Regions from separate parts of the Homo sapiens genome. Here region 1 is linked to region 2. Evidence: fine-mapped expression QTL. A gene starts in region 2. The other region holds a variant in brackets. All regions are shown on one strand. Distances are from middle to middle.

The links. PIP is the estimated chance that this variant, and not a neighbour inherited with it, causes the effect.
Region 1: its variant is the best candidate, but not a certain one, in a credible set for the expression of CABCOCO1 in sun-exposed skin (GTEx, PIP 0.57).

The regions. Positions count from the first base shown.
Region 1 is chr10:61,736,841-61,739,754 of GRCh38, forward strand. The region is part of intron 5 of CABCOCO1 (ciliary associated calcium binding coiled-coil 1); the gene reads left to right. Among named protein-coding and RNA genes, the nearest start is that of CABCOCO1, 75 kb to the left of the region's middle. The variant C/G (reference allele first, on the strand shown) is at 1,179.
Region 2 is chr10:61,661,658-61,664,587 of GRCh38, forward strand. It overlaps CABCOCO1 (ciliary associated calcium binding coiled-coil 1), which reads left to right and starts at 1,272. Exons shown (of 8, transcript NM_001366906.2): 1 at 1,272-1,375. The coding sequence starts at 1,316.

The DNA.
Region 1 (2,914 bases), 75 kb after region 2:
TGCAGAGATCTTTCACCTCCCTCATTAGCTGTTTGCCTAGGTATTTTATTGTTTTTTTGTGGCTGTTGTGAATGGGATCGCCTTTCTGATTTGGCTCTCAGTTTGGTTGCTGCTGATGTGTAGGAATACTAGTGATTTTTGTACACTGATTTTGTATTCTGCAACTTTGCTGAAGTTGATTATCAGCTGAAGGAGCTTTTGGACCAAGACTATGGGGTTTTATAGATAGAGAATTATCTTGTCATATGCAAACAGAGCTAGTTTGGCTTCCTCTCTTCCTATTTGGATGCCCTTAATTTCTTTCTCTTGCCTGATTGCTCCAAAGAAGACATACATGCGACCAACAAGCATATGAAAAAAGCTCAATATCACTGATTATTAGAGAAATGCAAATCAAAACCACAATGAGATAGCGTCTCACACCAGTCAGAATGGCTATTATTACAAGGTCAAAAAATAACAGATGCTGGTGAGGTTGCAGAGAAAAGGGAACCCCTCTACACTGTTGGTGGGAGTGTAAATTAGTTCAATCATTGTGGAAAGCAGTGTGGTGATTTCTCAAAAAGCTAAAAGCAGAACTGGTAACCATTTGACCCAGCAATCCCATTACTGGGTATATACCCAGAGGAATATAAAGCATTCTACCATAAAGACACATTCACGCGAATTTTTGTTGCAGCACTATTCACAATAGCAAAGACATGGAATCAACCTAAATGCTCATCAATGACAGACTGGATAAAGGAAATGTGGTACATATACACCATGGAATATTATGCAGCCATAAAAAAGCACAAGATCATGCCTTTTGCAGGAACGTGGTCGGAGCCAAAGGCTATCATCTTTAGCAAACTAACACAGGAACAGGAAACCAAATACCACATGTTCTCACTTATAAGCGAGAGCTAAATGATAAGAATTTATGAACACGAAGGAGGAAACAACAGACACTGGGGTCTACTTGAAGCAGGAGGGTGGGAGGAGGGAGAGGAGCAGAAAAGATAACTATTGGGTACTGAGTTAAGTACCTGGGTGATGTAATAATATGTACAACAAACCCCTGTGACACATGTTTACCTATGTAACAAACCTCCACATGTACCCCCAAACTAAAATAAAAATTTTTTTAAATGATATCTGGGGAAAATGTGGGAAATATCTTCACTTACCAATTAAAG[C/G]GTATACAAAAAAACAATAAATAAAATATCTTATTTAAAAAAAAAAAAAACAAAGACACCTCCCCCACCACTATTCTAATTCAATAGGTCTGGGGTAGGGCTTGGCATCTCTAGTTTTTAAATGCCCCATGGTGATTCTGATGCACAACCAGTGGCTGAAAACCAGCAAATTAAATTTTGCTGCAACTGTGTATAATTTGCCAGCATACGTTCATCTACCATCTACTCTCCCAAAAGAGACAGGAATGGAGGCCAGTTACAGGAGCAGAAAGGTAGCAGGAGCCTAGATCCCATAAGATTTTGTGAAAAGCAGAGCCACCATACAGCTTGGTACTGTCTATTTCTGGATTTTTATGTGAAGGCAAGATAAAATACTGTCAGGTCAAAGCTGCTGGAATTTGAATTTTCTGTCACTTTAACAGCTAAATATAATACCATCTAAATATACCAATATCACTACTTTATATTGCTTGTAAACAAATATATTTTTGCTAGTAAACAAATATTATATTGCTAGTAAACAAAAATTAGCCACCTTTAATTTTTACATATTTAAATTCAAAACATCTTAATGATAAGTCCAGAATCACCTCTATTATAACATATTTTGTCTTCTCAAAAAAATATGTTGTCTTATAATTGTAACTAAATATTATTGTAGTCTACATTATGTCTTAACAATTGTACAATAAATGTTGTAGTGGCTTGAACCTTCTTGCAAATTATGCACAGTAAAAACTATATTAAATCAAGCCCAAATAACTTTGAATTTCAAATATATCAACTTGGCCTGCACTAATAGTAAATTTTGGTCTATAAAAAAACAAAGACACTCATAATTTAGAGACTATTACATGGAGGCTGTTTATAAACCAGCTCTTGCTCTCTTAAGCAGAACAGTTTGAATTTGGCAGCATTTGTTGTTTATATGCAAATGGACATTGCTAATTACAAGTGAGTTTTTTTTTTCTTAAGTCATTTAGGTATATCCAGAATCTCAACTTGTAACCTTTTATTAGCACTGTCAGTTACTATACCAGTCTTTTTTAATAGGGATCTGCAAGAGAACTACATTCTACGGAAAACGATTAAATGACTATTTTCTGAATTTTCTCAAGGATAGTTGCATAGCTAGTAAGATTCTAGATGCATTGGAGAGAAATTAACTCATTACAAAAGTGGATGCCTCGGCCATGAGGGATAAATTCTCTAGGAATCTTGCTCGAGAGGTTGAGAATTGCTACCACTTGAAAGTGAAGTTTTATTTAGAAATATTCTATAATTCAGACTGCTCTCAAATTTAGACTAGCTTTCCACCAAATTCATCCAAATTGAAAGTATTTACTAGATATGGAAGTAGCTTTAATTCTTCAGAAATTTGAGTTCATTTTTTAAATTCTATCTTTGGTAAAAGTTCTCATGTAAATGTTATAAACAGCAATTTAGATTGCAAGTTTTAAGCATGAGACTGGTATGATAACAGCAGTATTTTGAGCAAAGTAACTTGGCAATGTTATAACAACATTTTGAAATGAAAAGTGATTAGGGACAGAGAGATTAATTGGAAAATTAGGAAATTGCTAAGTTTTTTTTTTTAATGCTAGCATATAGCAACGGTAATGGAAAGGAATGGACTTATGTAAAAAATATTGGCTGGGTGCAGTGGCTCATGCCTGTAATCCCAGCACTTTGGGAGGCTGAGGCACGAGGTCAGGAGATCGAGACCATCCTTGCTA
Region 2 (2,930 bases):
CTGAGAACTAAACTAGCTCCTTCAGAAGTGAAAATAACAAGGGAAACAGTAAAACCCACTTGAAAAGATGGGCCATACATTTACAAGACTAGAGACAACTCATAAACACAGGTTGACAGTACAAACTGTATACTTTGAACTATGAGACAATTTGAAGGAAAGGCACAATTATCATGAGGTTATATAAAGCTAATGTGTTATATTTGGTCTAAAAGACAATGGGCTAATATAAAGGAGAGGTTCATGATGAAATATTATATTATCCTGGCAGCTGTCTACAATATGGACTAACATCAGGAGAAGCACAATATTAATACTAACACTAATAATATCAAACACAGACCACTACTAGGTGTCAAGGCTGATATAAACATTTTCATATATATATTAATCTGTTCAATCTTCACAGTCATGTTTTGAGGCCAATACTGTTATTTCATTTAACAGATGAGGAAACCGAAGCACTTAAATGATGTCTGATTTTCACAGGAAGTGTCCTGCATAGCAACCTACATGCAGGTAAATACAAGCCAAGTACATTTCGTTTTCAAAGGAGGCGTTGATCATCCAAAGAAGTCAAGAATACTCATGCTGCTATGTGACATTTCTTATTGTTTGTAAATGTTTTTGTTGTGGAACACTTCAAACATATACAAAAGGAGAATAGTACACTTTCTTTCTAGTGTACTATTAAGTGCACTATTAAAGATCGAACCCCTTCCATTCACATGCCTAATCTAGATGCATGTGCTATACCACCACTCATTTCCTGTGCCCCTCCCTCATTATTTTGGAATAAATCACATATTTTATATCATTTCATCATCACTAAATTGTTCGGCATGTATCTCTAAAAGATAAAGACATATTTTTCCTTCTAAACATGACCACAATACCATCATGATACTTTAAAATTTACAATGATTGCTTAGTATCAAACATCAATCAGTGGTTGAAGTTCTAATAATATATCTTACTTTAATATTTGTTGAAACTTGCAATGTGCTAGCATTAGGTACTTTGACATATTTCATTTAAATTACTACTACTTGAATTGCCTTTTCCCCACTTTCACTCCTACTAACAGGAAAGACTCGGTCTCTCCCAGAGGATTCAGGGCCTCCGTAGCGGGCTGCTGTCGGCCTCCCTCCCGGCCTCCTGCTCCTCTGCGCGGTCCCCAGCCCTCTACCCGGCGGGCAGAGGCTCGGGCCCAGCGCCGCCTTCCGCTGGGATCTGTTCCCAGGCCCAGGGACGCCGGCCCCACCCCAGTTGCCTAGGTGACGAGGGGCCGCTTCTCTCGGCCGAGATTGCGGCGATGTCGCAGGGGACGACTCCCTGGGGGCCGACCCCGGCGGGAACCACGCCCGAATCGGAGGTACACCGCCCCTTTCCCTTCCCGGTACCGGTGCCGGTACCAGAGACCTCCGAGCGCTCATTCCCAGTCCGCGGAGTCTGCGGCCAAGCCAAATCCGGTCTCCGAAGAGGCGCCGCACGTCTGGCCCCGGCTGGTGAGCGGCCTGGGAGGGCGGCAGGGCTGGGAGCTGCGCTGGGGTCCCCGACACCCTCTGCAGCCCGGCGCCCCCCAGCCGGCCCCGGCGCGCCGTGCACGGTGCCAGCGGGTCTAAATGTATGAATTCTTCCATTGGACGGCTCCGTGCCCAAACGCCCTCATAACCACGCGCTTCTACCGCAGGTTTTGTTTTTTGGTTTTTCATGTTTTTTTTTTTTTTAATTCTAGGTAAAATAAGTAATCTCAGATTTTTAAATGAGCCAGTCTCTTTTTGAAATTGCTACTAATTTTGTAATGATTACAGTGTTGCGATTGCTCAAAAGGTGTCATGAAATAATAACTGTTTACTGGTGATGGACTGATTAATATTAGAAGATTGGTGTTTCCATTATTTTGCCATTTTCCTAAACAAATAAATACAGGTGAAAGGACACTGGCTGGAAAATCTTCTCTGGTTATGGCTTTAGTTGCTCATCAGCTTGACTTTAGGAAAGTTATTTAATCTCCTTGGACACCAGTGGCTTCCTGTGTGACAAAAGGTTGATCTTTAGGCCCCTCCCATCACCAGCTCTCCATAATAAATGGGTTTTAAGTAACTTTACTCATAAACTTAATATCCTGAGATTTTAAGAACACATCTGCTGTGCCAGATATTATAAAAAAAAAAGTTTAAATCTTTGCACACGGAGTCTGTTACGATTGTTCCTAGGAAGTTTTTTTTCCTCCGTTTTGTTAAGGCTCTCAAGGTGAATAATCATGTCTTAATTAACATTGCTTTGCTTGACTTCCTTATTCGTTGGTCTAAACGACATTCTTTGTGCAGAAGATAAGTGTTAGCTGCAATTTTATAAATGAGGAAACACAAGGAGCCAATAATTCCATGCCTTGCTCAGAGATATATAAGCTGTTCCCAGTCGAGATTCCTACCAATACAAAATGCAGACCACTAAGGCATGCGGACTCTCATATGAGCCTTTTGAAATTAGCAGACATTAAAAGTACATTTTAATGTGATAAACTGGTACTAAGCCTATTATTCCCTTGTGATCTCTAATGTAAGTAATACAATTTCAAAAGTAGCACAGGAAATTTTCCAATTAAATTGTGTTATTTAAATATATACCAAGCTTAAGACTATGCACAATTATCAGTGTACACATACATATGCTCACCCACGTAGACCATGTCCTTTCCAAAAAGACTGATCATTTGGGGGTTTTAATGAATCTGGACTTTAAAAAAATACAAAATTTTTTAAAAGATGTAAAGAAGTGCTATGCTTCAGGAAAAAAAATCATTTTATAATGGTTGAGTCAGATGAATGAGCTAGTTATAGATCTTAGATTATTATCTACCCTCTTAGGATTGTCAGCTTGCACATTTTTCAACTTCTTGGAGGGCCAGGTATTCTCATGACATG